5 separate regions of the Homo sapiens genome follow, and all the other regions are linked to region 3. Evidence: fine-mapped expression QTL. A gene starts in region 3. Each other region holds a variant in brackets. All regions are shown on one strand. Distances are from middle to middle.

Evidence for each region. PIP is the estimated chance that this variant, and not a neighbour inherited with it, causes the effect.
Region 1: its variant is fine-mapped to the expression of TMED8 in Th1 cells (Schmiedel 2018, PIP 0.95).
Region 2: its variant is fine-mapped to the expression of TMED8 in Th2 cells (Schmiedel 2018, PIP 0.95).
Region 4: its variant is fine-mapped to the expression of TMED8 in whole blood (TOPMed, PIP above 0.99).
Region 5: its variant is fine-mapped to the expression of TMED8 in whole blood (INTERVAL, PIP above 0.99). The same link has a PIP of 0.9 or more in blood mononuclear cells.

What each region holds. Positions count from the first base shown.
Region 1 is chr14:77,336,563-77,342,771 of GRCh38, reverse strand. It overlaps TMED8 (transmembrane p24 trafficking protein family member 8), which reads left to right. Exons shown (of 6, transcript NM_213601.3): 6 at 784-6,209. The coding sequence ends at 1,001. Among named protein-coding and RNA genes, the nearest start is that of GSTZ1, 19 kb to the right of the region's middle. The variant A/G (reference allele first, on the strand shown) is at 2,629.
Region 2 is chr14:77,411,877-77,418,085 of GRCh38, reverse strand. It overlaps NOXRED1 (NADP dependent oxidoreductase domain containing 1), which reads left to right. Exons shown (of 6, transcript NM_001113475.3): 2 at 3,959-4,152. Among named protein-coding and RNA genes, the nearest start is that of NOXRED1, 8.5 kb to the left of the region's middle. The variant GTGTGTGTT/T (reference allele first, on the strand shown) is at 2,897.
Region 3 is chr14:77,373,550-77,379,758 of GRCh38, reverse strand. It overlaps TMED8 (transmembrane p24 trafficking protein family member 8), which reads left to right and starts at 2,665. Exons shown (of 6, transcript NM_213601.3): 1 at 2,665-2,823. The coding sequence starts at 2,706. It overlaps SAMD15 (sterile alpha motif domain containing 15), which reads right to left and starts at 2,380. Exons shown (of 3, transcript NM_001010860.4): 1 at 652-2,380. The coding sequence starts at 2,340. RefSeq lists an enhancer at 2,398-2,607 and a silencer at 2,658-3,087.
Region 4 is chr14:77,461,034-77,467,242 of GRCh38, reverse strand. It overlaps AHSA1 (activator of HSP90 ATPase activity 1), which reads right to left. Exons shown (of 9, transcript NM_012111.3): 3 at 5,001-5,083; 4 at 4,484-4,601; 5 at 2,557-2,645; 6 at 1,576-1,704. Among named protein-coding and RNA genes, the nearest start is that of AHSA1, 6.0 kb to the right of the region's middle. The variant G/A (reference allele first, on the strand shown) is at 2,994.
Region 5 is chr14:77,318,517-77,324,028 of GRCh38, reverse strand. POMT2 (protein O-mannosyltransferase 2) reads left to right here and starts at 3,146. Exons shown (of 21, transcript NM_013382.7): 1 at 3,146-3,595. The coding sequence starts at 3,348. It overlaps GSTZ1 (glutathione S-transferase zeta 1), which reads right to left and starts at 2,993. Exons shown (of 9, transcript NM_145870.3): 1 at 2,846-2,993. The coding sequence starts at 2,860. RefSeq lists enhancers at 2,330-2,379, 1,911-2,772, 2,650-2,919 and silencers at 3,000-3,379, 3,610-3,659. The variant C/A (reference allele first, on the strand shown) is at 2,677.

The DNA of each region.
Region 1 (6,209 bases), 37 kb after region 3:
GTATCCATTCTCTCCTTATCCCAAACTCTCATAGCTGGCTATTGGTTACTTCTTTACTTCATGCCCAGACAAGTTTTAAAAGGGTCTCCGGGCTCCATTCCGGCTGTTATTTGTAGTGTCTACACACTACACAAAGGATGGCCCAGAGGCATTTTTCAGATAACGTAAGAGTAGGTCCTAAGCATTAGTCTTATTCCTCTTATTCCTTGATTTTCTTATATAATCTTAAAGTCAGTCCTTTAACGTGCTTCTTCATAGAACAGCAAGCGGGCAGGGAAACCTACAGGTATCTGGGAAAGCGGAGAACCTTGTATCTTATTTGCTGCTTTTCAGGAATCCTAGGGTCACTTTATAGCACGTTTATCTGCAATTCCTATCTTCGTTAGCTAGTCCTTTCACCTACTAAATGATAGAATATCGGGATCTTTTCTTCTAAATATCTCTTTCTCCCTCTCAGAAATGTCCAGACACTTCTGAAGCTAGGAAGGCTCCTCTCAGGCTAAATCATTTTCTCAGTGGAGACATTATTGGCATTTGGGATGGGACATTGTTTGTTGTGTAGGTACTATCCTGATTTTAGCACTCCTGGACCCTTGGGTACTAAATGCAGATATCACCTAATAGTCACTGTGATGACCAAAAGATCACCAGACATTTCCAAATGTCTGTAGGAGGGCAATAATCTCCCCGCTCTGTGAAAGCCACTGGGTCACCTGGTCCTTCCGCTCACCTTCAGGCAGGACTTACGCAGTCTCTGAACACTTTGCCATTTTGCTCACGCAGAACCCGTTCCAGCTGGAGATGTGGAGAGAGGCTCCAGGAGCTCCTTGCGGGGTCGCTATGGGGAGGTCATGCCTGTGTACCGGCGGGACAGCCACCGAGACGTGCAGGCTGGCAGCCATGACTACCCTGGTGAGGGCATCTACCTGCTCAAGTTCGACAACTCCTACTCCCTGCTGCGCAACAAGACTCTCTACTTCCACATCTACTACACCAGCTGAAGGACTGCTGGGACAGGGGCAGGCTGTATTTGCTGGCTGAAGCAGGCTGCCAGCTGGTGCCTCTTGTTTGGGATAGGCAAGAGCCAAAGGTTCATGGGGGGCTGCTGAGCCTCACACCCTGTCTGGCATGCCTGACTGTTGGCCCACGTAGCTTTTTCCCCTTCTTGGCTTCTGCAGGTGGTGGTGTAGTGCCCCTGTTCTGTAGTCCCTGACTCATACCCTTCTTGCTTCAGACTCCAGCAAATTCCCTCTTGAAGGCACCTATGGGGCACAAGCCTAAAAGGAAGCAGGGCGATGTTTTTTAAAAATAGATTCATCTTGGCACAGGTTTATCATTCAGATTGCTGCCCTCTCCTCTCCCACAGCCCTTATTGCCAGTGCATTTAGTGGCACCCACTCTCTTCAGTTGTTGAGGTGCCAGAAGAGGGAAAAGCACATTGCCCATGAAGGAGCCCCATCTTTTGGTTGGAGAAAGCTCTATCCAGCCTGTCACCACTGCCATATTCCTGCCTGCTGGTTATTCTTGGTCTCTGCATAGCTGGGAGACCACACTGCCTTTGGAGGGCTATTACTATTCCTGATGGTAGACACCCCCTCCTTTCTCTTTCCTAAGTCTATGTTTTTGCCATTACAGCAAGAACATTCATGCAATCTCAAGTGATGATCAATGTAACCTAAGATCTTGTGGGAAGAAAAACTGCCCCCATTATTTCCTATTCCAAGAGCTGGTTTCCCTTACTATGGGCACTGGCAGTCAAAGTGGAGAGAGTGGAAATTAGGTACTGAATTGATGTCAGAACCCACATATTTGAAAGTCGTGTTACTTTTTTTTTTTTTTTTGGTATAATCAAAGAAGGAATGGTATCATCTGACAGAGAAGATGAAAAACAAAAAACACTCCAGAGTCCCCACCGCTTTTTTTTGTCTTTAGAGTAGGAGTGCTGTTTAGAAATGTTGCTTTGGAATCAAATGCAGTGAAACCCAATCAGGTTTCCAAAGTTTCTGCATTTAGCTTTCTTGCATTGAGGGCTTAAAGCTTTTGGTGTTCAAAGTCCCTTAGTTTAGGTGATAATGAAGCTTCACTATTGCTGCTGATTGTATTTGTTCTTTACCTGACCAAAGCTTGCATTTCCCTGGTGACAGCATTTCCTACTGTGTCACCCCTGAGGCTCAGGAGTGCCACAGAGTGCAGGTAGTGCTGCAGCCAGTGGTCACCAGAGCACCAGCTGCTGGGCCCCCAGGCGGAGGAGGAGACGGAGGTGAGATGGGACCTCAGCAGTCTCTGTGTTTGTACCTCCCTGTCTCTTACTCCTCGTGTTATGTCTGTTACTGCCTACGAATTCTGAAGAATAATTAGATTTATTTATTACTGTATTTATTTTTTTAGCACATTTCATTTTGCCTTTGAAACAGTTTCCATCTGTTTCTCAGAAGGCTTCCCATCTGTTCTGAGCCACTGAAGCCCCCTCTTTTATGGAGTTAAAGATGATATTTTTAGGAGAATTTGGGAAGCGATGATGTTTTATTTCTGTAGGTCAGTCCTGTGACGGCTTTGCGAGGAGTATGGCCCTTCAGAGATGGATGATGCCACCTTACTCCATGTTTGGGGTACAGTCCAGCACTCCCC[A/G]TGAAAAATTCTAAGTTGTGAGGGAATCTGCCCATTTGCTGGAGATTGAGTGCAGAGGAATTCCCTAACCAATCAGAGATATCCCGTGATTCCAGGATTTCAGAGTCCTTTGTCTCCTCTGAGGTGTCACCTTCTTTGTGATGTTTCCTTTGACTCATTGTTAGATTCCTCACACCAAGGGTCTATCCCTACAGTAGCATAACTCAAGGAACGGGACTCTTCCCAGTGGGTCCCTAGTAGCATCTACATCACATCAAAGGGCAATATATCCTGCACCTGCTCTTCCCCTCGGAGCAAAGCCCCAAGTGGGATAGGATGTTGGGGACTGCCAGAGCATTCCCATTCTCTGAGCAGCATCATACCTCCATTATTTTATATTTGCAAATGTGTTTTGTAGAGGATTACACTGGCCAACATTTATATACCTTTAAAGAAATTATTTTAGTGACTGTCTGTTGAGGCAGTGAAGAGCTGATTTGCTGTGTGTCATCCCATTGGATAGCTGAGTGACCGCTCTTGCATCATTGAAGTTGAATCATGCCTTAGCTAACTGAATATAATCTTTGTAAAATAATTTTCTACTGAGCTGTTTTCTAGTCAGCTAAAGCCTTGCTTATTTTTCCTGTTTATTATTAACTTCTGCCTTTCTCTCAAATTGAAACAGTCAGGCCATACACAGCAAGCTCCCAAGGATAACACTTGTTATTATTTATTTTCACCATGAGATTCTCTGCTTATTTTCTTTGGAATCCTAGTTCTGTTGCATCAGGGAAGCCTAAGGGACTTGTTCCCCTCACCTCTGTGTGCCTCTTAGGGTCTGGTCACTTTTGAAGTCCTGGGCATGGTTACATTTCATTCATACTGGTTTTTCACCAACTGTCAGGGTTTCTGTGTTCCATTAGCACAAAATAGCTAAAAGAAGATATTTTCACTGTCTAATTCACTATTTTCATGTTACATTTCTGAAATAATTGAACTTTAGGGGCAAGATACTACTTACTGAAGCACAGGTAATTACTGAGAACCCACAGCCCAGCAAATTCTAAGAGACAGTCATTTCCTCAGCCCCTCCCAGTCCAAATTTATAGACCCAAACAATGAAATGAAAACCGTTTGCTTTGATCCTCACCCTGTTCTCTAGAGCACAAACAAATAGTAACAAACAATTGAAAGAAAGTGCTTCATAGTAGGAGAGAGATTGGAATTCTCTATAGTGACTGAGTTCTTAAATTTCTTTAGTTTTAGTTTTGCCACTTTGTTGAGAGATGGGCCTTTTAGAAAGGAAGACATATTTAAAGTATTGATTTCTTTTCCCCCAGTGTTTTATTGTGAAAAAATTTCAGCAAACAGCTTAAAAGAAATATAAATATATTGTAAACCAAAAAGTATCTGAGACAGGTCTCAATACATTTAGAGGTTTATTTTGCCAAGGTTCAGAGCCCATGATGGGGCCTCAGGAGGTTCTTAGAACATGTGCCCGAGGTAGTCGGGTTACAGTTTTATACATTTGAGGGAGACAGAAGGTCCAGGCAAAGCCATAAATCAATACATGTAAGGTATACACTGGTTTGGCCTGGAAAGGCAGGACATCTTGAAGATGGGGGTTTCCAGGTCAGAGGTAGATCAAAGAGTTCCTGACTGGCAGTTGGTTGAGAGAGTTAAACTTTACCTGAAAAGATGAAGTCAGCTTAAGTTAAAGTAAGGGAGGCTTGGCTTAAGTCATGTAGATGAAGCCTCCAGGTAGCAGGCTTCAGAGAGAACAGATGATGAATTTTTCTTTTTAGGCCTTAAAAGGTGTCAGACTCTCCAGAAAAGACCTAATAAGAGAAGGAGATTCTCTACAGAATGCAGTTTCCCCCACAAGAGACAGCTTTGTAGGGCCATTTCAAAATACGTCAAATAAATATATTGGGGGGTAAATTTCCTTTGGGGCCTGCTGTCATGTGATGCTATACCAGAGTCAGGTTGGGATTTGGTATTTTATTGCCACAAAGGGTCTGTTTGGTTAGTCTTAAGATCTCTGTTTTAATGTTAATGCTGGTCAGTTGTATTTAAATTCCAAAGGGAAGAGGGTAATATGAGGCACCCTGTAATCTGACCATAATATGAGGCACCCTGTCTTCCCATCATGGACTAGTTTTTCAGGTTCCTTTGAGATCCCCTGGGCCAAGACAGGGGTCCATTCAGCCGGTTGGGGGATTTAGAATTTATTTTTGGTTTGCTGTATATATATGTATACACACACTCCCCGCATAAATGTAAAAATTTTAAACTACCAATTCCTAGGCAAAGATGATTCTAACATTCTGTTCCTTTTGACAAGTGTCCAATTAGAGAATGCTGAGAATGTCCCCTGCATATCGGCTCTGTTGGAGAGCCCCTGATTTTTAGCAGACCTGTTTCATTCAACATGGGTTACCCAGGAGGTGGTCTTCATAAAAATGTTTCTTGGAGGCCAGGCGCCGTGGCCCACGCCTGTAATCCCAGCACTTTGGGAGGCCAAGGTGGGCAGACCACCTTAGGCCAGGAGTTCGAGACCAGCCTGGCCAACATAGTGAAACTCCGTCGCTACTAAAAATACAAAAAATTAGCTGGGCGTGGTGGCGGGCATCTGTAATCCCAGCTACTCTGGAGGCAGAAGCAGGGAGAATTTCTTGAGCCCAGGAGGCAGAGGTTGCAGCGAGCCGAGATCATGCCACTGCACTCCAGACTGGGCAACAGAGCAAGATTCCGTCTCAAAAAAAAAAAAATTGTTTCTTGGTCTCCATCTTTCAAGAAAATACATCTGTGCTGTATTTTCCCCTTCCCTCAGGCCATGATCTCTGCTGTTTTCCTTACTAACTGGCATGTCAGTACAAGAGTGATTGTGAAGCTGCTCCGGAAGGGCTTTATGCTAACCTCTGTTGCTTGATGACATGTCCTCAGGACTCTGATATTAAAACTCAATCCTTAGATAACAGGTAGCTTTATCATGGAAGTAGGTAGCAATTTGGAATTAGACCATTCTTAGTTATTTTTTTCTTAATGAATTGATACATGCACTTTAAAAAATATTTTTGTTATTTTGGGAAGAAAAACTCAGACTTTTAAAAAAGTGTATATTGTCCCATTATAATATGTATATGGAAGAGTGAAATCTGAACGCTGTCTTATATTAAGCAGTAGAATTAGGTATTATCATAAAAAGTCTTAATCTGTAGGGAATATGAGTTTATGTTTATGAGTCCTGCTCAGTCCCTCTTTGAGAGAATTAGTTGAAACCCAGACTCTAAAGTCTGCTTTTATATTTGTTTGTTAAGACCACTTATCTGCAGAAGGTTGCCTTTTAACCCCAGTGGTTCTAAGGTGTGGAATTGAGTGACCCTAATATTTACATAAGAGACTTGTTTTAGTGGAGCATAAGGGAGGGGCATAAGTTACACCGTTTTGTGCTGCTTGAGAACTGTCTTTTAAAATTGATCACAACGAGGGAAAACAAAATAAAATTAGGGGGCAAAGGGTAGGAGTATGGGGGGAGGGGAGAGCAAACCTATCGAATATATCTTAGAATTTTGCTCAGAAATCACTGCTGCCTCTCAAGT
Region 2 (6,209 bases), 38 kb before region 3:
AGATATAATTCATGAGATAAATAACAAAAAGCAGGGGTAGGGGAAGATGAAGTAGAGTTTTTGTATATGATTGACATTATCATCTTAAAATAGGTTGTTACAACTATTTTTATGATTTTTATGCAATTTCCTACGGTAACTACAAAGAAAATACCAACAACAAAAAGAAAATAATGTCATTACAAAAAAAAAAAATCAGTGAAATACAAAAGAAGGCAGCAAGAGAGGAAAAGAAGAACAAAACTGCAACACAGAGAAAAAAACAAACTGGCAGTGATAAGTCCTTCCCTATCAGTAATTATTTTAAATGTAAGTGGATTAAACCCATCAATCAAAAGATACCGAGTGGCTGAATGGATAAAAAACAAAAACAAAAACAAGATCCAACGTATATCTTGTCTTCAAGAGACTCACTTTAGATGTTAGGACACATATAGGCTGAAAGTCAGACCATAGAGAAAGATAATTCCACGTAAATGGTAACCAAAAAAGAACAGGAGTAGTCATACTTGTATCAGACAAAATAGGTTTTAAGTCAAAAACTGTCATGAGAGACAAAGAATGACATGATGATAAAAAGACCAATTCACCAGGAAGACACAACAATTATATATGTACTTAACATCAGAACATCCACATATATGAGGCAAATATTGACATAACTGAAGGTATACAATTATAGTAGGAGATTTTAATACCCAACTTTCAATAATGGATAGAACAACCAGACAAAAGGTTAGTAAGGAAACAGAAGACTTGAACAACATGACACACCAATTAGAACCTAATGGACAAGTACATAACACTCCACTCAGCAGCAGAATACACGTTCTTTTCAAGTGCACATGGAACATTTTCCAGGATAGATCACGTTAGGTCACAAAATAAGTCCTAACAAATTTAAGAAGATTCAAATCATACCAACCGTCTTTTTTTTTTTTTTTTGACCATAATAGAATGATACTAGAAATAGCAGAAGAAAAACTAGAAAGTTCACAAATATGTGGAAGTCAACACAACTCTTGAACAACCAATGAATCAAACAGGAAATCACAAGGAAAATTTGAAAATATCTTAAGTGAAAATGAAAACAACATACCAAAACTTATGGGTTGCAACAAAAGCAGTACTATGAGCAAACTTTATAGGGGTAAATGCCTACGTTAAAAATAAGAAAGGGCCGCCCCTACTGGGAGGTGAGGAGCCCCTCTGCCCGGCCAGCCGCCCCGTCCGGGAGGGAGGTGGGGGGGTCAGCCCCCCGCCCGGCCAGCCGCCCTGTCCGGGAGGTGAGGGGCGCCTCTGCCCGGCCGCCCCTACTGGGAAGTGAGGAGCCCCTCTGCCCAGCCACCACCCCGTCTGGGAGGTGTACCCAACAGCTCATTGAGAACGGGCCATGATGACAATGGCGGTTTTGTGGAATAGAAAGGGGGGAAGGGTGGGGAAAAGATTGAGAAATCGGATGGTTGCCGTGTCTGTGTAGAAAGAGGTAGACATGGGAGACTTTTCATTTTGTTCTGTACTAAGAAAAATTCTTCTGCCTTGGGATCCTGTTGATCGGTGACCTTACCCCCAACCCTGTGCTCTCTGAAACATGTGCTGTATCCACTCAGGGTTGAATGGATTAAGGGCGGTGCAAGATGTGCTTTGTTAAACAGATGCTTGAAGGCAGCATGCTCCTTAAGAGTCATCACCACTCCCTAATCTCAAGTACCCAGGGACACAAACACTGTGGAAGGCCGCAAGGTCCTCTGCCTAGGAAAACCAGAGACCTTTGTTCACTTGTTTATCTGCTGACCTTCCCACGCTATTGTCCTATGACCCTGTAGATTGCTGTCTACAGATGCACTGCAATCCTTATCAAAATCCCAATGACATTTTTCATGAAGATAGAAAAAAAATCCAAAAATTGATATGGATGAAGCTTGAGGACATTATGCTAAGTGAAATTAGCCATGTACAAAAAGACAATACTGCATAATTCTACTTATATGAGGTATCTAAAGTAGTGGAACAGAAAGTAGAATGGTAGTTTCCAGGGGCTGGGGAGAGAGAAAAATTGTATAGAGTTTCAGGTCGGGTGTGGTGGCTCATGCCTATAATCCCAGCACTTTGGGAGGCGGAGGTGGGCGGATCACTTGAAGTGGGGAGTTCGAGACCAGCCTGGCCAACATGGAGAACCTCATCTCTACTAAAAATACAAAAATTAGCTGGGCGTGGGGTGTGGTGACACGCGCCTGTAATCCCAGCTAGTCAGTAGGCTGAGGCAGAGAATTGCTTGAATGTGAGAGGTGGAGGTTGCAGTGAGCTGAGATTGTGCCGCAGCACTCCAGCTCAGGCAATGGAGGGAGACTGTCTCGAAAAAAAAAAAAAAGCATATAGAGTTCCAGTTTTGCAAGATGGAAAGGTTCTAAAGAGCTGTTGCACAACTATATCTATATGTCTGTCTGTCTGTCTATCTATCTATCTATCTATCTATCTATCTATCTATCTATCTATCTATATGTATTTTCTTTTTTTGAGATCAAGTCTTGCTCTATTGCCCAGGCTGGAGTGCAGTAGTGGATCTTGGCTCACTGCAACCTCCACCTCCCGGGTTCAAGAGATTCTCCTGCCTCAGCCTTCTGAGTAGCAGAGACTACAGGTTTACACCATCATGCTGGGCTAATTTTTATATTTTTAATAGAGATGGGGTTTCACCATGTTGGCCAGGCTGGTCTTAAACTTTTGACCTCAAGTGATCCACACGCCTTGGCCTCCCAAAGTGCTGGGATTACAGGCATCAGCTACCATGCCTAGCCACAATGTGCATATAATTAACACAACTGTACTGTGCACTTTAAAAATGGTTATGATGGTGAAGTTCATGGTGTGTGTGTGTGTGTGTGTGTGTGTGTGT[GTGTGTGTT/T]TTCCTGAGACAGGGTCTTGCTCTGTCACTCAGGCTGGAGTACAGTGGCACGAGCACAGCTCACTGCAGCCTCAAACTCCTGGGCTCAAGCAATCCTCCCACCTCAGCCTCCTGGGTAGCTGGGACTACAGGTGTGCACCACCATACCTGGCTAATTCTTGTATTTTTTGTAGAGACGAGGTCTTACATGTTGCCCAGGCTGGTCTCAAACTCCTGAGCTCAAGTGATCTGCCTGCCTTGGCCTCTCAAAGTGCTGGGATTATAGATGTGAGCCACCGTACCCAGCATGTGTTTTTTAACCACAATAAAAAAAAAAATTGAAAGCTGTCTGCACAGAAACAAACAAAACATGAGGGGACTGGCCCACAATGTGTTATAGACATTACAGTATGCTGTATAATAGTGGCTGTTCACAGTGGTGTCCTGAGCCAGTGAAATGATTAAATATTCAGACTGTTTAACCAGGCAAGCATAATACATGTAACAAAGTATGTTCATTTAAAACATTTTAAATTTTGGTCCCTTGAAAAGGGTTATACTTTTGTTTCTGGAAAATTAACTCAGGAGGAACATTTCATTCCCTAGTGAGGCTGGATAAATGACACACAGTTGAAATGTCTTATCTCCGAAGTACTTAAGGTGCCACCAAGCACCTTAAATGACAAAGCAGAAAATGTCAGAGAATGACAGTTAAGAAGAACTAGGCCGGGTGCGGTGGCTCTCGCCTGTAATCCCAGCACTTTGGGAGGCCAACACGGGTGGATCACGAGGTCAGGAGATGGAGACCATCCTGGCTAATACAGTGAAACCCTGTTTCTACTAAAAATACAAAAAATTAGCCGGGAGTGGTGGCAGGCACCTGTAGTCCCAGCTACTCGGGAGACAGGCAGGAGAATGGCGTGAACCTGGGAGGCGGAGCTTGCGGTGAGTCAAGATCACCCCATTGCACTCTAACCTGGGCGACAAAGCAAGACTCTGTCTCAAAAAAAAAAAAAAAAAAGAAAAACTAGTGTGTGCATGTATTTATGTACGTGTCTGTGTGTTCATTCTCCAGAGCATCATTAAATAAGAATCAAAGTTCCAGACATCTCTCAATTGGCTCCCTTAATTCAGCCACTCCTGAAGAGTTTAAGGTGGGCATCATTGGAGGTGGCCACCTTGGGAAGCAGCTGGCTGGCACACTGCTGCAGCTTGGCCCCATCCCTGCTGAAAGCCTGCGGATCTCCACTCGGAGGCCAGAGACTCTGGGTGAGGAGCAGTGTGTGGTAGAAAGGGGGCTTGGTTGTGCTGTGTAGGTGTCAACAAAGCCATTTTGAAAGGGTCCTCCAAAGAGGAATCCTTGCATACAGCGTGTGGAGTTCTCAGCTTGCTAGCCCTAAGAAAGGTTAGAAGCATGGCCTTTTCTCCTGTTCTTTAAAGCGACTTTTTTTCTCCATGTATGTGTTTTATATCCATGTCTCCTCCCTGTGCCCTTGGTGGTGAAGTATCTTTCCAGATCTTTGATACAGGGAAGCTTTCCATACAGAGTTCAGATCTTCTAACTGAATCAGTTAGGGTCTGGTTGGGTGTTAAACAGTTCCAGGCATTTGCAGTTGGCCTTATATTTTTAAAAATGACATTTACTGACTTTAAAAAAATGTTTTGTGGTCGGGCGCGGTGGCTCACGCCTGTAATCACAGCACTTTGGGAGGCCAAGGCGGGCAGATGACGAGGTCAAGAGATTGAGACCATCCTGGCCAACATAGTGAAACCCTGTCTCTATTAAAAATACAAAAATTAGCTGGGCATGATGGTGCGTGCCTGTAGTCCCAGCTACTCAGGAGGCTGACGCAGGAGAATTGCTTGAACCCAGGAGGCAGAGGTTGCAGTGAGCTGAGATCACACCACTGCACTCCAGCCTGGAGATAGAGTAAGACTCCGTCTCAAAAAAAAAAAAAAAAAAGTTTTGTAATGATTCCATTTATGGTGATAGAAATCAGAACAATGATTTCTTCTGGGGAGATAGACTGAGAAAGTCCCAAAGCAACTTTTTCTGGGGAGATGAAAATGTTTTATATCTTGAGAGAGAGGTATGGGTTAAATGGGTGTATGCTTTTGTCAAAACTGATCAAACTGTACACTTCATATCTGTGTTTTGCATTATATGTAAATTATACTTCAATAATAAAAAATGTAAAATAATATGCATATTGTAGAAAATTTGTCTACAAGGAAGGATACAACTACCTATAATCTACTCGGGTTATTTCCTTCCCGTGTTTTTTTTTTCTCTAATTATATCAGTAATCGACACTGTATACAGTTGTTTGTATTCTGTTTTTTTTTACATAATGTATCATGAGCATATTCTCGTATCGTTTAACATTTTTTGAAATAATGATTTGCCCACACCTGTAATCCCAGTACTTTGGGAGGCCGAGGTGGGCAGATCACCTGAGGTCAGGAGTTTGAGACCAGCCTGGCCAACATGGTGAAACCCAGTCTCTACTAAAAATACAAAAATTAGCCAGGTGTAGTGGTGGGTTCCTGTAGTCCCAGCTACTCAGGCGGCTGAGGCAGGCAAATCACTTGAACCCAGGAGGCGGAGCTTGCAGTGAGGTGAGATCACATCATTGCACTCCAGCCTCAGCAACGGAGTAAGACTCTGTCTCAATTAATCAATCAATAAGAAATAATGATGTTAAGCCCCTCCACTTTCCCACAGTAGAAGGTTACCCCAGCAGGCTTTGAGCACAGTCTCTTGCATCTCCCTAGCAGGGTGTGCTTGCTGTACCTGGTGTTTGGATGCACAGACTATGTAGTTGTGCCCAGCAGTGGCTAAGACCACTAGACACCCTACACTATTCTTCCTTTCTCTGTTTTCATCTCAGGATTTAAAATTTTAATTATATTAGTAAGAGATTAATGTAAAAAAATAGATTTTAAGGTTGTATAATATCCCAAAGTATGGATGTACCATAATTTATGTAACTATGCCTTATTTAGTTGAACTTCCTTGTACATAATTTTCCAAATAAAGTTATTAGGCCAAAGAATTGGTACAGCTTTATTAAATTTTTTTTTTTTTTTTTTTTTTTTTTAGACTGAGTCTTGCTCTGTCACCTAGGCTGGAGTGCAGATCGTGGAGAGCACGATCTCGGCTCACTGCAACCTCTGCCTCCCGGGTTCAAGCGATTCTCCCGCCTCAGCCTCCTGAGTAGCTGGAATTACAGGCATACGCCACCACACCCAGCTAAATTTTTTTGCATTTTTAGTAGAGACGGGGTTTCACCATGTTAGCCAGGCTGGTCTTGTACTCCTGACCT
Region 3 (6,209 bases):
AAGTACCAAAAAGCCTACCTTGAACAAAGTCTACTTAAAAATACAGTTTTCTATGAAAGGAGGTCTAAGGCCGGGCACGGTGGCTCACGCCTGTAATCCCAGCACTTTGGGAGGCTGAGGCTGGCGGATCACGAGGTCAGGAGATGGAGACCATCCTGGCTAACACAGTGAAACCCCGTCTCTACTAAAAATACAAAAAATTAGCCGCGCATGGTGGCGGGCGCCTGTAGTCCCAGTCCCAGCTACTCAGGAGGTTGAGGCAGGAGAATGGCGTGAACCTGGGGAAGGTGGAGCTTGCAGTGAGCCGAGATCGTGCCACTGCACTCCAACCTTGGCAAGAGCGAGATTGTGTCTCAAAAAAAAAAAAAGAAAGGAGGTCTATATACTCTTCTTGGTCTTTTATTCAAGGATTGCAGAGAAGTGTAATCACTGGAAGAGGAAAAACAAACCGATGTGACCCTCCCTTCCTCTCCCAAAATACAAATATACATCAGTGGCAAGGCCAAAATTAAAATCCAAGTTACCTCTACCACAGTCTAGGACTTTTTGATACTCCTTCCGGTAAAGAGGTAAGAGCTCAGGCCAAGTTAGAAGGAATAAGAAGTAGACGGATGACAGCATGTGATTTCAAAACATCTTATTTTTGTATACCTTGTATTGAGGGAAGCCTAGCTGGCTAATCCACTCTGCAACTTCCTCTGGATCCCAATTAAGATGCTCAAATTGTAACTCAGTCCCTTTTTCTGGCTGGGTTTCGTCATCTTCAGAGACCCGTTCCTTCAACTCTTGGGACAAATCTACAACTTCCTTTTCATGAACGAACTCACTTAATTCTGTCTGAGACTCTGAGGGATCTGAGTATGAGCATTCTTCACTGACATTAAGCAATTTTTGGAGTGGTTGCAAAAACTCATAATGTGTACCAATTGATTCTTCACTTTCTCTGAGAGATCCTAATGCGTAATATTCTTTTCTAAATTTGTCACTTAGTGACAACTTTCCTCTTTTAGGCTCACGGTGCTCTAGCTCATCGTTTCCTACAGAATACTTAGACTTTATTGGTTCTGGCCTGTCTTCCTTGGAAAATTCTACATGTGTCTCCCTTGGTTTGGTTTCATCTGGTAACTCTAGAATTTTCTCAGTTGGCTTTGTTTGTGTTTTCTCTTCAACTTGTGGGTTGATCTCCTGTGGTAGCACTGGACCAGTCTCCTCTGGTGGCTGTGGATTTTTTTTCTCATTTGACTTTCTTATCTCTTCTGGACTTTCTGGTTTCATCATTTCTGATTGTTCTAGAATTGTTTCCTCATTTGTTTTTCTTGATTCTTCCTCAGGAAACTCTAATTTGATCTCTTCTAGTGGCTCAGGAACGTTCTCATCAGTAGACTTTCTTGGCTTGTGGTCTGGAAAGTCTGGTTTAGTCCGCTCAGGTAGTTCTGTCCCTTTCTCCTCAGTTGCCTTTCTTTGCATCTCCTCTGGAACCTCTGGTTGAGTCTCTTCTGGAGGCTCTAGACCTGCCTCCTCACTAGACTTTCTTGGTTCCTTCTCCAGAAATTCCAGTCTAGCCTGCTCGGGTGGCTCTGTCCTTTTCTTCTCAGTTGACTCTCTTTGTGTCTCCTCTGGAGTCTCTGGTTTGGTCATCTTTGGTGGCTGAAGATCTGTCTCTTCAAGTGATTCTCCTAGTTTCTCACTTGGAAAATCTTGTTTGGTCTGCTCTGGAGGCTCTAGACCTGTCTCTTCATGTTGCACTCTAAGTGATTCCTCTGGAACCCCCGGTTCAGTCTCCTCCTCTAGTAATTCTAAATTTCTCTCTCTGACTGTGGCCCCCGAAACCTCAGACATGGTTTCCGTTGGTGGCACTGGATCTGGATCTGTTTCCATAGCTGACTCTAGGAACACATCCTCTGTAACATTTGGTTTAGCCTCCTCTGGTGGCTCTAGGTCTGACTCTTTATGCGTTTCATCCATAGGGGCCTCCAAATCTTTGAAAAACTCTCCCATCTCTCTGGATGTTTCCGACTTTACCTCTTGGTGTATCCCTGGTTCAGTTTCGCTTGGTACGTCTCTCTTGGACTCCTTGGCAATTCCTTCCTGGGACGTCCCGCCAGGTTTCAGCTGCACGTTCTTAGCACTGTCTGGCTCCCCCTCTTTGAAGTCCTCTTCCTCGGTCTCTGGCTGTGGCTCTTGGTAAATCTCTGCTGGTAGCTTCGAGTCTGCCTTTGCCATGGTGTCTGGTTCGGCATTTTCATACAATTTATGAAGTCCAGGCAGTTCAGGCCTCTCAGGCTCCAGCTCTCCATCTTCATCTGGGCCGGAATCATAATCCTCCGGGACTTCAGCCATTTGCAGCTTAGCAGACGCGCCGCGGCTTCCTAGCAACCCCAACTTCCGATAGCGTCTCTATGGATACCACGATTTCCGGCAGTGTCTTCCTGACTCTTCCCCAGGTTTTGTTTGTTCTTTCAAGCCCTGACTTTAAAAATCGTCTGTCACAAGCACGCAGTAACCCTCCCTGCGGCCTCATCGCCAGCCTCAGCGGGCCAGAGCTCCTGTGGCCGCCCCTGGGTCAGCTAGCTTTTCAAGCGGCCGCCGCGCCGCTTCTTCCGGCCTGCAGGCTGCGCTCGGCTGTGCTCGGCGCTCGCTCGGCCTTCGGCTGTTTCCGGAGCCACTCGCGGCTGGCAGCGGAGAGCTCCGTGCGCGGGCTGCAGATGTCTGACCTGCAGGCGGCTGAGGGGCCGGGCTCCTGGAGCCCCACAGCCCGCCCAGGGTCGGCTGGCGGCGTCGGGGACTGCCAGGGAGTGGAGGGGAGCCAGGCGGCCGCCTCAGGTACGCAAGGCCGGGGCGCTGGCGGGTGGGTGCCGCCCGGCCTCAGGGCCCCGCACCACGGCGCGAGCCTCCGCCGCGCTCTGTCCTGGGCTTCCCCGCGGAGCGGACCCACCTCGGCAGCCCCTTCGCGCGCGGGGCCCCTTCCCCGCCGCTGCCACCACCCGGGCCCTGGGCTCGAGGTTATTTTCTACTCACTCCTGTTTCGAAATGCCTTGATTCCTGCCCCGCTTCCTTTCTGAGATCTGCCCAAATGGTAGTGACAGGGTGGCTCTGCCCCTGGCGCCTCTTCAGCTTCAGTTTCAGCTTCAGCCGGGGTTCGGGTCCCACCTCCGTCTGCTAATCACATCTAGACTGCCGACCCGAACCCTACTGGCCTCGCCGCCCCCTGCTTCTGGCTCCCCACCCTATCCCCATCTCAGTCCCCTGCCCCAGCCTTACCACGCGCCTCTCGGCCCCCACCCGGGTTGGCAGCCTTGCCTTCCTCTGCCAGAAGCCCACTGCGCCCTAGCCTTCCTGCACATAGGCCCCCTGGCCTTGCTGCCATCCTCTCCATCGCTTAGAGTGGGAAAAATGAAAAGCAGAGTTGAAATAGGTAGTGTCTGGGGTCTTTTGCTTGAACACAGTAGCCAAAGCAAGAGCAGGAATTAAAAATTTGGCCTACCTCCCTCATTCTCAAGACCCTCATCCTCTTCTTGTCCAGGACGACGTCTCCATTTCTACTAACGCGAGTTCCTCCGTGTGTATTATTTCAGTGTCCAAAGACAAAAGAGTCCATCCATCACACTTTCTTCTTTCAGCCTCCTGAACACCACACACGATGCAACTGAAAGGATGCTCTTTTGAAATACGAAAGGGTAGAGGGGAGAGAACTTGTCTTATTTAAGTAGCAAATATAAATTAATTTTCTAGGTCTGAAATTAAAATAGACACCATAAAGTATAATGGTTGAGGCACTACTGTGGAGCCAGGGTGCCTGGATTGGAGTCTGAAACGTCAGTTTCCTCATCTGTAAAATGTGATTACTAAAAATATCTGCCTCATAGGATTATTGTGAGGATTACTTGAGCTGCTTTGTCTAAGGCATTTGGGGTATAGTCCATGGTACACACTATACTCGTCTCAACCATTGTGACAGTAAGGTCTCTTTTTGTTCAGTTGAACTTCCTGTGCCGCCAGAGGTGTTCTTGGATGTATGGCTTCCAACATGGTGCCTTTTTCTGTCTTCTACTCTGATCCCAAGTATCTTCCCTCTCATAATGCTGCCTTATTCAAACACACACACAACTCACCCAGCTCTTTCCCATGATTTTATATTCTTTTACTTTAAAACACCTGACAAATTTTGCCTTTTTTTCTTACGAACTCTGCTTTGTATTAAATTAAAAATCGTTGGCATATATTTAACATAGCAGTAGAAATTCTAAGCATAATGTCTAAAAGACTAAGCAAGTAAACACAGAAAGGTAAGTCTTATAACACTTGTCCCTTGCATGCGCCAGTATTTACAAATTAAGCATGTTTTTACTTCCCCTTTAGGTTCTCATGTGTTTATGGCAAACGTACCCACGCGTTTTAGATAGATGAGTGTGTTTTTTTTTCCCCCTGACATCTAATTCATTCCTGCATTCACTTCCTCCCAGGACATTGGTAGAGATGCTTACTTTCCTTCCTCTTACCCTCAGAATGCAGGGTGATAATTTTTTTTTTTAATGTCATGTAGGGGTTTATTATAGTAGCCCAGAGCAAGCTCTTCCTCTTGAGGTAGGATTTGTTGCTAATAAAATAATAGTAATGATAACCTACAGATATTGAATGCTTATTCTGTGCCAGAGGTGGAAAAAAATTTATATTTTCTGATTTAGTCATGTCAACAATCATTTTCTTCCCATTTTACAGAGGAACAAACTACAGCTGAGAAAGGTTAACTTACCTGTTCAAGTTAGCGCAAGTTTTTACTGTCTGGATGAAATTGTCATCTTGTTATGATGAAGTCTATAATTGTTTGTTTTTATTGGCCATGAATCAAGTATTGGTACTCGCAGACAGGTTATGGTCTCTGTCCTCAAGGTGTTTTCAGTTTGATGAGATGAGAGATCCATTTCAGGGAGAAACAATTAACAATTCAAAACATTATATAATTGGGCGTCTTTTATTACAATTCTTTATCTACTAAGAAACCTGCTTGGAGTTAGGAACGGAATCTCTCTTGCTTGTTTATTTATCTAGAGCCCTTGATGTTGTGTTTTAGAGGTTTCGCAAATATTTGCTGAGTTTGATGGTGAGAGAAAGTCTGAATGCAGAGATCTGGATGAGCATCTAATGAATGTGAAGAATTAGGGTTGAGATAACCAAGAATGTTCCTTGGGTTAGAGCAATGGTTTTCAACCAGGTACGATTTTGTATCCCCAGGGCATGGCAATGTTTGGAAACATTTTTGCTCGTCACAACTGGTGGCAGCTATTGCTGACATCTAGTGAGGATAGGCTAGGGATGTTTGCTAAACATCCTGCAAGGCACAGGGCAATCCCCATAACAAGGAGGTATCTGGCTCCAGATGTCAGTGGTGCTGCTTTTGGGAACGCTGTGTTAGAGTTAAGCTGGGCTTCCAAAGCAGTGTGGAAATACTATATTTGGCCTGGACCAGAGGCTTGGGCGTAAACCCCAAAAAACTGCTTTAAACTTGGAATTCGTTTGATTGGATCCTTCTGCCATCTTCCTCTAGAAAATGATACAATGAGTAAGCAATAGAGCTCTAAGAAAGAATGAAATTTAATGAGATTTCTCTCACCCTTTCAGAGAGAAAACAGCAGTAAGAAATGGAATTGGATATTCAGGTGTTCTGTTAGTCCATTTGGAATACCTGAGACTGAGTAATTTATAAGAAAAGAGTTTTAATTGGCTCATGGTATTGCAGGGTGTACAGGAAGTGTGGTGTTGGTATCTGTTTCTGGTGAGGGCCTCAAGAAGCTTAGAATCATACTGAAAGGGGGAGCAGGTATGTCACATGGCGAGAGTTGGGAGTGAGAGAGAGAGAGACGGGAGGAGGTCCCAGACTCTTTTAAACAACCATATCTCAGGTGAACTAACTGAGTGAGAACTCACTTATCATCAAGAGGATGATGCCAAATCATTCATGAGGGATTCATCTCCACGATCCAGTCACCTCCCACCAGACCTCACCTCTAACATTGGAAATCACATTTCAGCGTGAGATTTGGAGGGAACAAACATCCAAGCCATATCAGGTATTGTTGAGTTAAGGGTTTTGGTTTTTTGGTGTATCTTATTCCTTCAAAGCAGGAATGTGTCATTATCCAGAATAACCATAACTTGTTTTTTAAAAGTGTTCTCTGCAGAGAATACCTATTGAGTGTCTTCATGTTTGT
Region 4 (6,209 bases), 87 kb before region 3:
ATTTTTTGTAGAGACAGGGCTTCACCATGTTGGCCAGGCTGGTCTCAAACTCCTGGGCTCAAGTAATTCACCCGCCTCAGCCCCTCAAAGTGCTGGGATTAGAGATGTAAGCCACTGTGCCTGGCCTACTCCATATATATGAAATCAGTATCATTTTGCTGTGTTCGATTACCCAACGGTGCCGCTTTTACTTTTAATAAGACTTTACTATTTTTTAAAGTAGGTAATACGAATACATGGTACAAAATTAAAAATAAACAGAAGGTTAAAAATGTTAGGAATCCTCCCATACAAAAGTATTTTAAAACTCTGAAAACTTTAGCTAGTTTGGAAGCAGAGATTCAACTGAAGTCTGTGTTGAAGTGCTAAATTCAATTCACATGAAGACCACAGCTATGCTGCTAAGTCCTTCAAGGCAGCAGGCACCAAGTAGAACCAAGTTAGCCATCGAATGCAGTCTTTGGCATAGCCAGGTCATAACACATCTCTGGAGTCAACTAAGATAACTTTCTGAAGTACAGTACAATTTTGTTTATACACATCTTTTTAAATTTCTAGAAAACCCAGTCCATTTAATTGCTTCTCCAGTTCTTGGTTTTCTAAGGGGGAGAGAACTTATCACGAGAGTATTTTGGGTGCAGGCGCACAGACATACTAACACCCATATACTACATGGTACCTCTTAATTTATGGCTGTATTTACATTTTTGTTTAAAAAATAAGATCTTGAAATTTTGTCCCAGAGTATATGGGAACTTCCACATATCCTAACCACCTTTACTATCAGATAATAAAGCTGAATACGGTCATGTTTCTCAACTCCACACTATAGCAGCAGAATGGCACAAGTCAGCTGTGCAACACAAAGAAGCCAGGAATTCTTCTGTGCTACAGAGTAACCAAGAATGGCCATTCACTTTTCTAGTAAGATTCACTCAGTGGTTTCTACTTATATGACCCAAAACTGGAACAGGCACGGTAGTGTGCACCTGTAGTCCCAGCTACTCAGGAGGCTGAGGAAGGAGGATCGCTTGAGCCCAGAAGTTCAACGTTAGTCTGGGCAACATAGCAAGACCAGGTCTTTTGTTTTTAAAATAAATAAATATGGCCGAGCACAGTGGTTTGCACCTGTAATCCCAGCACTTTGGGAGGCTGAGGCAGGCAGATCACTTGAGGTCAGGAGTTTCAGACCAGCCCATCTCTACTAAAAAATATGGTGAAACCCCATCTCTACTAAAAAACATAAAAATTAGCTAGGCGTGATGGCGTGTGCCTATAGTACCAGCTGTTCAGGACGCTGAGGCAGGAGAATTGCTGGAACCTGGGAGGCAGAGGTTGCAGTGAGCTGAGATTGTGCCACTGCACTCCAGCCTGGGCAGGTGACAGAGCGAGACTCCGTCTCAAAAAAAAAAAAAGAGAATAGAGGGAGGGAAAAATTCACTTTGATGAAGGCCTCATGGCTCCAGTTGTGAGTTTGTGAGTACCTCTTCTGTACACTGCTGAAGGGATATGCCCCCAACTCAAGTCACCTAGAAGGGCAGATGGCATGAGGCCTGAAGGACAAGACTTACTTACCTCTTGGGTGGTAAACACTCTATAGAGCTCCTCTGGTGACGTCAGGAAGGTTTCCTTAAGAGTGATCTTACAAGTGGGGATTTTGACTCCAACAGGTCTGGCCTGGGTTTTTGAAGGAGCAGGCTTAGCCTGTGAAGGTGGCAGTGAAAATGATCAATACAGAGTAATGATACAACCTCAATCAACGTGGCTTCAGAGACAGTTGTACCATTCATTCTCATAAAAATGTTCACCTCCAAGGGTAATTATTCCAAGGGGTTTGAAGGGAATTTGAGTGTGTAGGTGTTTCAGTCATGAGGGTAATGATTCTGGAAACCTCCTCAATTCCCAGTAAAAATAACCACTCTACAAGGAAGACCCTGATAGTCAAATAACAAATCAAATCATTGAGATATTTTTGAAGAGCTCAGTGTAATTCTCAAACAATTTCTATGTTTAAATAGCTGGAAGCGGTTTTCTCCCCACTTCCAGAGTATCCACTTCACTATGCTGACAAAAGAGCAACAGGGCTCTAAACCAAGTGCTGAGCTTGAACCACAAACTTCCATCTCTAGATAAAGTACTTGCTCACCCTGAAAATTGGGGAGATTGGGTGAAGACAGGGATGTAACTCCATTTCTTGATGGGACCTCTAATATCAAAGTATGAAATATCAACACACCAATTAGACTGAAGACTTATATAGGTGAAGTCCATCCTTTGTTCATAACCTCCTAACTGGTGCTAAATGCAATCAAGAGTCAGACTTTTAACTGTCTGATAGCTCCTACTTGCTCTAAAGGTCTGCGATAAATGAATTAAAACCAGGTTAAAGATGGGTGAATGAATGCATATTGCAGGCGCTCTGAAAAAGCACCATGAGCAGATCGCAGGCTGGTCTGGCTTAGAGGTTAGGGACACAGAGAGCTGATATGTGGAATTAAGAAGGCGGTCTCTCAAGTTCCTTTGCAGACAGTCTCCCACCCCAGGAAAACCATTTACCTTGCGCTCCTCAGTTTTCAGTGCTGGCTGCCCCACTGGGTCTACTGACTCTCCATTCATTGTAGGTAAGATCATGCCCTGGGTGAACTCTGAAAAGATAAAATTCCAGCTCATGGAAGTTACTTCTTAGTAGCTGAGATCTGGAGTTTCATTACAGCTTGACAAACACAGCCATCCTACCACAGAATGAGGTTATGACCAGAAAAGGAAGAGGCTATTTTTACATCTTTACTTTTGGCCTATGCCAGACTGGTACCTGGGTATATGCTATAGAATACAGTATGTTCACTGGGATTATTATTATTTTTTTTTTGAGATGGAGTCTTGCTCTGTCACCAGGCTGGAGTGCAGCCTGCACTCCAACTCACTGCAACCTCTGACTCCCTGGTTCAAGCTATTCTCCTGCCTCAGCCTCCTGAGTAGCTCGGATTATAGGC[G/A]TGCACCACCATGCCCAGCTAATTTTTGTATTTTTAGTAGAGACGGGGTTTCACCATGTTGGCCAGGATGGTCTTGATCTCCTGACCTTGTGATCTACTAGCCTCGGCCTCCAAAAGTGCTGGGATTACAGGTGTGAGCCACTGCACCTGGCCACTGGGATTATTTTTAAAAGCTTATCCTGACTCAACTGGAAACATTATAACATATTAAGTGCATGTGAGGTCTACTATGGAAGGATGGCGTGAACGCCGTGGCACTTTGATGACTTCAAGAGTGGGTAATCTACCCAGCACCTATGGATGCATGGTTAGTGCCTTTCCTCCACTCTGCCTTACCTCTGCAGAAAAGCCACAACTAGTTATGGCACTGGTGTACTGGTCCTCCCCAAAAAGGTGTCTATCACCTTCCATCACCTTCTTTGATGGTTATTATACATATTCCAACACCAAGATCAGAATACACTGGCAGAAATGGAATCCCAGGGGAAAGCTGAGCTGACTTCTATTCTAAGCATCTAAATATCCCTGGAGAGTGCATATCAAAGATAGTCCAGACTGTATTCAAGTAATGAGTCCAGAGATGCCAAGTCTTTAGATTAGCGCTGTCCATTAGAAATATAATGTGAGCCTCAAATACAGTTTTTTTTTTGTTTTTTTTTTTTTTGAGATGGAGTCTCCCTCTGTCACCCAGGCTGGAGTGCAATGGCGCGTTCTTGGCTCACCGCAACCTTTACCTCCTGGGTTCAAGCAATTCTCCTGCCTCAGCCTCTTGAGTAGCTGGGATTACAAGCATGCACCACCATGCCCGGCTAATTTTGTATTTTTAGTAGAGATGGGGTTTCTCTATTGGTCAGGCTGGTCTCGAACTCCCGACCTCAGGTGATCCGCCCACCTCGGCTTCCCAAAGGGCTGGGATTATAGGTGTGAGCCACTGTGCCCAGCCCGTAGTGTAATTTATACTCACAGCACATCTCTTGTGTTTTTTGGTCATCCAGGCTGGAGTGCAGTGGCATGATCTCAGCTCAATGCAACCTCCCTGCCTCCTGGGCTCAAGCCACTCTCCCACCTCAGCCTCCCGAGTAGCTGGGATTACAGGCATGGGCCACCGCATCCAGCTAATTTTTGTATTTTTTGTAGAGACAGGGTTTCGCCATGTTGCCCAGGCTGGTCTCAAATTCCTGAGCTCAGGCAATCAGCCCACCTCAGCATCCAACAGTGCTGGGATTACAAGTGTGAGCCACCGCGCCAGGCCATCACAGTACATTTCAGTTTGGTCTAGCCACATCTAAAATGCTCAACCATCATTATTAGGCAACACAGCTCCAGATCTTTCCCTTACTCCGAGCTTATGGACTGACTTTAAGATGAAATAAGCCCCCTCCCCCCAAATCTTTACCCATTTGCCAAAGAAAGGACTGTCCAGGCCCTTAACCAGAGTCTAACAGGTGGAAACTACCTCCTTAAGGCATACAGAACTACTCAAGGGATACCTGTTTTGAGGGTGCTGATGTAAATTCCCATTGCTTCTCTTAGAAGTTTCACCCCTTCTTCCTTCATTAAGGCCACGAGATTTGTGTCAGGCTCATCTTTGGCAAGGCTCACACTAATCTGGGTGAAAGATGAGAAGTAGGTGGTAAATAACTTGAGGGGCACCCTCATTATGGAATGTGGGGGCTGAGCAATCAGGTGACTGCTGACATTTCCAAAGGAAATGCATGAGTACTGCGGTATTCGTACAATCCCCATTAGTGTTCCTTCTTGAGTCCTCTCTGTCAAGTGGCTAATGTTAGTTAGAACCCATGTCACTAGCTAAAGTGAAGAAATTAAAGAAGTGCAAATTGCTCTAGAAGTTTCCAATGGCACCATATGCCTAGAAAATTATCTGCAGGCTAGGGTTCTGAATGCTTGGACCAAGCCTGGGCTATGAATCCTGAATGACAGGTCACTTTTCTCATCTGAGAATAAGAGGATATAGAGGACTCGGATTAGGAGTTATGAAGCACAAACCTCCACTTCATCCACGCTGTTTTCATCAGACAAATTGGGGATCTCCACATGTCCTTTGTATTGTACTCCTGACTTAGAAGTACCTGTCAAAACCAATGCAATGTCATTAGTCCACTCCTTGGCAGGAAAGGTCTCTGCTCCAGGGTCCTAACTGCTACCTCACTTCTGCTGCTTTTGGATGGCTGAACTGATCCTCTTTATTCTGAGAATGCCACATGCCAGATGCAATCAACACCCGCACCCCCAAAAGAAATGTCTTTCCTCACCAGGTTACTGGAAACCAACTATGTTATTACAATGTGAGACAAAGAGCTACAGATTTGGTACTAGCATGAGTTATACCATGAGAACTTGGGTCAAAAGCCAGTAGTTCTGCTAGAATACTTGTTTTGAAAATATCAATTTATTTCAGTGCAACTGAAATATTAGGGAACAATTTGATTATAATGAGAAGTTCATGTTTGCTTATATGTGACTCCATCCATGAGAAACACTAGGTGAATACGGAAAGCCTCACCCAGCTACACAGGATACATAAAACACACACATCTCAAACACCTATCTGCCAATGACCTCAGTTTACAGCGTGTGTTGTGAGCCATACCCATCCTCAACGAGTGTAATGTTCCCTCTGATTGTGGATGACTCTCCTTCTACCATTCCATAGTAGTCCTCAAGCTGCAACCCTTCTGATGCCCACCTTTTCCCCCCGCAAGACAGAGTCTTGCTCTGTCGCTCAGGCTGGATTGCAGTGGCATGATCTTGGCTCATTGCAACCTCCACCTCCCAGGTTCAAGCAATTCTTCTGCTTCAGCCTCCCAAGTAGCTGGGATTACAGGTGCGTGCCACTACACACGGCTAATTTTTGTATTTTTTAGTAGAGATGGGGTTTCACCATGTTGGCCAGGTGTGTCTCCAATTCCTGACCTCGTGATCCACCTGCCTCAGTCTCCCAAAGTGCTGAGATTACAGGCGTGAGCCGCCGCGCCTGGCTTTGATGCCCACTTTCACAAATAAACTTCAGGTCTTTTTCATGGTAAAGCACCATATTTATTGTAGTATTCACCTATTTTTTATTTTTTTTGAGATGGAGTCTCACTCTGTTGCCCAGGCTGGAGTGCAACGGTGCGATCCCAGCTCACTGCAACCTCCGCCTCCTGGGTTCAAGCGATTCTCCTGCCTCAGCCTCCCGAGTAGCTGGGACTACAG
Region 5 (5,512 bases), 55 kb after region 3:
GGCATCTGGAGTCTGGACCTGGTGCAGGAACCAGCTCTGCATGACCTTGGACAAACCTCTGCCTTTTTAAATCTTCGGCTCCCTCATTTGTAAAACAAAGGTTGCCCTAAAATGATGGCAGGGCATCCTCTAGCAATGCAGCAAGACAAGGAATTCTAATTTTTTGACGCTTTGGTACATATCTCCTTCAACCCCACCTCCCAGCAGTCCTCCGGGCTCTCGGCTGTCCCCATAAAAACAGCTGGCAGATATGCTCACTCACCCCAAAGGTGAGGTCAAAAGCTGGCAGCTCACTGGGGCCCTATCTGGCCCTCAGAATTTCTGTTTGCTCAACACAGTAGTTTAAAATGTTTCAAGTAGTTGCCAATGTTTAAAAATCAGGACATTTCATTCTAGTATGGTGGGTCATGCCTGTAATCCCAGCACTTTGGGAGGCTGAGGCCAGCAGATCACCTGAGGTCAGGAGTTCGAGACCAGCCTGGCCAACATGGCGAAACAACATGGCTAAACAAAAATTAGCCAGGTGTGGTGGTGTGCATCTGTAATCACACCTACTTGGGAGGCTGAGGTATGAGAATTGCTTGAACCCAGGAGGCGGAGGATACAGTGAGCCAAGATCGTGTCACTGCCCTCCAGCCTGGGGGACAGAGCAAGACTCCATCTCAAAATAAATAAATAATAAAATAAAATAAAAATAAAAATCATGATATTTTATATACAACACCTGTTTGTTTTTTTTCTTTAAAAAAATCTGGAGACAGATTTGGGTTCCTAAATAGCAGCAATTGATGGGAACAGACTAATGGCCCCCATCAACCAGCGTATGCGCTCTCAGGTCTGCCATGGCCCATATCTGGCCCACTTTTCTCATTTTTGTTACCTTTGGGCCCTTGGGGGCAGCTGGGTGTGCGATCTCTACTCCAAGGTTTAAGGGGCTCAAAGTTAATTTCTCTGGTACTTCTTCGGGAGCCAGCATTTCAAAGTGGAACCCAGGAAAGACTCGCCAGTGATTAGCACTCATGAATCTTCCCACCAAAACATGTGTATCCCTATGGATAGGGGAGAACTTGAAAGAACTTCTCAGATGCCCTGTTTACTACCCCTCTGACTATAGACATTTCACCAAAGCTCCCTCTCCCCTCTGCCACCCCTAGCATATTAAGCTGCTCTCTGAACTTGCTATTGCCATCCCTGTACTACCAACTCAGTCTGCTAGATGGCAAGGGTGTAAGTGGGAACCTAGGCCCTTCCAAGATGGTTCCCAAGCCCAGCAGTCCCAGCCTGTCCTGAAGGTACCTTTTGTGGAGAAAGTAAAGATGGTCCTGGCACAGAAAGCAGGTGATGGGCAGAAAGTGTCTTTCGAAGAGGAGGAATTGGGTGGCCACAACTGGATCTTCCTTATTTGGAGATGCAACTCCCTTTCCTTACCTAGCCAGGCTACAGGGACTCCTGGTGCCAAGGGACAGGGACTGCTGGTGACCACTAGAGTGTGGCAGACATTAATTAGCTTAGAATCCCTGAAGAAATGCCTTACCTAATGGCTAAATGCCTTTGGATTACACCTTTGGATCTGTACTACGAGTGACCAGAAGCATGGTAAATGCTGCTGCCCTCCGTCACGACCCACAAGCAGGAAACCTGAAATCTCTTAGGCAATTTCTGCCTTCTCTTACCAGTGATAACTATGTAAACCATGCCCCGTTCCTTTCTGCACTTGTAGAACTAAACTTTAAGCCCAAGTATCCATCTCATCAGCACTCCTAGAAGACCTGTGTTTCCAATTCAAATATGCATTCTGATTACTTTAGCAGATTTTATTTTTAAACCATGTCTTACACATGATTTGAGAAAAAGACTCCTAAAATCCCATTTGGAAGAGGGAGGACTATACATTATTAACGTGACGCAAAGTCCCATCTAACGTGCCACCTTCCTTAGTGCCACAAAAGTGGTTCTCAAACTTCATGGCACGTTAAGAACCATCTAGACCGCTTATAAAAACATGCAGATTCTCGAGCCCGTTCCACCAGAGATGAACAGAGTGGCTCTGGAGCAGGCCCCGGGAAGAACATGTGAAAGCCGTGAAGCTCCCCAGGTGATTGTCATGACTGCCTCTCCTCGCTCGGGGCCTTTTTTTTTTTTTTTTGAGCCGGAGTCCCGCTCTTTCGCCCAGGCTGGAGTGCAGTGGCGCGATCTCGGCTCACTGCAAGCTCCGCCTCCTGGGTTCACGCTATTCTCCTGCCTCAGCCTCCCGAGTAGCTGGGACTACAGGCGCCCGCTACCACGCCTGGCTAATTTTTTTGTATTTTAATAGAGACAGGGTTTCATCGTGTTAGCCAGGATGGTCTCTATCTCCTGACCTTGTGATCCGCCCGCCTCGGCCTCCCAAAGTGCTGGGATTACAGGCGTGAGCCACCGCGCCCGGCCCGGGGACTCTTAAAATACAAACATTACTGGAAGGTCACCTCCTGCTAGGGCCAAGAGAAGAGCATGAAGGGCTGCGAGAAATTGGGAGGCTTGGGGCGACGTTTGGAAGCCTTAGTGGAGGGAGGGGTCTGTTATGGGGAGCAGGGAGGGCGGAGCAGAAGTGAAGCGCGACCGGACAGCGACTCCACCCTGCTACGCACTCCCTACCAGGACCGCCTCCTCTGGCCCAACCCTCCCGGAACTTCGAGC[C/A]CCAGCGGGCAGCGCGCAGCACGCAGGCGCAGAGCGTGCCCGGCGCAAAGCACTGCATGCCGGGAGTCGTTGTCGGCCTGGGCGGGCGGTGCAGCTCACTTCTGACCCCGCCCCCCAGGGTCTCCAGGTGTCTAACCAGCTTCCCTCCACCCGGGTGCGCGTCACAGACCTTCCCCGCCTGCATCTGGCACTTCGCGCGACCCCCTCCTCCAGGCCGAGAAACTTCGCGCCTGGGACCTGCCGACGACTAAGGCTCAGTGAGACTCGACGAATCAGGCCCGTGTCTTTCGTCCGGGTAAAGCGAGGGGCTGGACTAGAAAGATCCTTCCGGTCGCCTCTGGCTCGCCCAGCTCTCCCGCCACGCCCCGTACCTGGGGGCTGCTGGGAGTTGCAGTTCCCTGAGCCCGACCCCTCCTGCCCAGTCCCCCCCGCCCCGGGCCGGCCGGCCCTCCCGGTCCCGACATGCTCTGCGCCTCCTGCCGCCTCCTAGCGGCCCGGGCCGCGACCACGCTGCCCGCCCCGCCCCGAGCCCGGGGCCCCGCGCTCCGCTGCAGTGAAGGGCGTTGCATTTCCCGGGGTACCCCGAGCTGCCCTCTTGTGACTCCTTGGCGGGGCGGCTGGTCAGACAAAGTGTGCCTCCGGGCCGGAGGGCGACCCAGAGGAGGGGGAAGATGCCGCCGGCCACGGGCGGAGGCCTGGCAGAGTCCGAGCTGCGTCCCCGGAGGGGCCGCTGTGGCCCCCAGGCTGCTAGGGCCGCAGGCCGGGACGTGGCCGCTGAGGCTGTGGCGCGAAGCCCCAAACGGCCTGCTTGGGGCTCACGGCGCTTCGAGGCGGTCGGCTGGTGGGCCCTGCTGGCCTTGGTGACGCTGCTGTCCTTCGCCACCCGCTTCCACCGCTTGGACGAGCCGCCGCACATCTGGTGAGTGATGGGAGGGACTCGGCGGGCACCATGGCAACCGCGACGGGACGCCGCCCTCTGATTGGCCCGAGGGTACGGAGGGGGCGGGATCTATAGGAGGAGGGCCACGGTGGAGGGGAACTTGAGGTATCGGGTGGGTTGGCCTCTGGCGAGGTGCATTCTCTGGGAGGGGGATCGTTTTGCTCTGGTGGTGGGGCAGTGGGATTCTTAGTATCTGAGGAAGCAGCCCTCATGTCTTCCAGGTTATGCTACAGTGCATCACCTGGCTTGCAAATTGTGGCTTTTAAAGGTGCTTTCAACTTTCCAAAGAGAATTGCAAATTTTTGGGTACAGAATTTTCTAAGGCCTGAGTTCCTATGTCTGCAGGATTTTCAGGCATCAACAGAGGAGAAAATACCTAACTGTGTACCTTTATCCTATAGGGCAAGGACAGTTTGGGTGTTCAGGTATGGTGACCAAAGGATTTTATGAGGCAGAACTCTTCTTGTGAGAAGAGATTTATTTTCTTAAAGGTTTTAGCTTGTACTATCCAGATACTGGGTGTCAGAAATGGAATTCTTTAAGCAAAAAGCAGGCAAGAAAACAGACTGTCAGGGTTGCTTTATTTAGAAATTAATAAATTAGCTTGTTATTGTGTCGTGACTGCTGGCAGAAGATGAGACTCCTGGGTTAGAGACAAAGGACTTTATTACAGGAAATAGGATGCATGTTAGAAGCAGTTTCCCTTGCCATCCAAGTCCCACAGGGTGACGCTATGGGTTTAAATGGATGACTGCACAGGCAGTGGGTTGCATCCAAGTGAAGGAACGACAAGCTTGGAAAATCTGCTGTTTTATAGAAGGCAGTACGCAGACCTCCTCTTTGTCCTGGAGGGAGACACTGCCTCTTCTCTCAAAGTTGCTTGCTGCAAACACAACCATGAGAAATGGCCCAGGTGAGATGCAGTCAGGGCCTTGCATTCTTGGTATACCCAGAATGATGTGTAGAGGCACGAGCAATCTGACAGCCTCTCTCACTCCTCGATTCTATGGTCTTGGCTTCTAGCAGATTTTCACATGAATATACAACTCCCCTGGCTACTCACATCTTTTCAGTTTGTCCCTTACAGCATTTAATTAAGGTTGTTGTCAATGGGACTCTAAGCAGCAGAATAAGGCCAGCTTACAGTATTTACCTCAACCATGCCCTCCAGGGTCCTGGATTCAGCCACTTGTGAATAAGTCCTGGGGGCACCGAGGAATCTTATTTCAGACATCTGGGCTGCAGTCTAAGACCAGTCTATTAACCACTGTGACCTGTGCACAGGGGTTCAGATTGATCTCTGATCTTTGGTGTCATTACCAGTAATTACAATAGCCCACTACCCTTGTAAAAATTTTTTTAAGAAAGTAATTACCAGGCTGGGCGCAGTGGCTCACACCTGTAATCCCGGCAGTTTGGGAGGCCGAGGCGGGCAGATCACCTGAGGTCAGGAGTTCGAGACCAACCTGGCCAACATGGTGAAACTCCGTCTCAACTGAAAATACAAGACTTAGCCGGGCATGATGGCGGGTGCCTGTAATCCCAGCTACTCGGGAGGCTGAGGTGGGAGAATCACTTGAACCTGGGAAGCAGAGGTTGCAGTGAGCTAAGATCGCACCATTGCATTCCAGCCTAGGCGACAAAGCCAGACTCTGTCTCAAAAAAAAAAAAAAAAAATTAACTACCATGATTAATGGAAAGATATTTTGTGACCCATTCTTCCTTACACTAACATATTACTTGGAGGAGTGCAGGCCACTCCAGGATTTTTGTTAGATTTTTATTTGGATCACCATCAAATTTGATTACCATTACAGTGGTTTAAACCACATGGGCAGTGTCACTGAACAGTTGCAGCCTCAATCACTAGACAAGGCATAACCTAAGTAAGGCCCT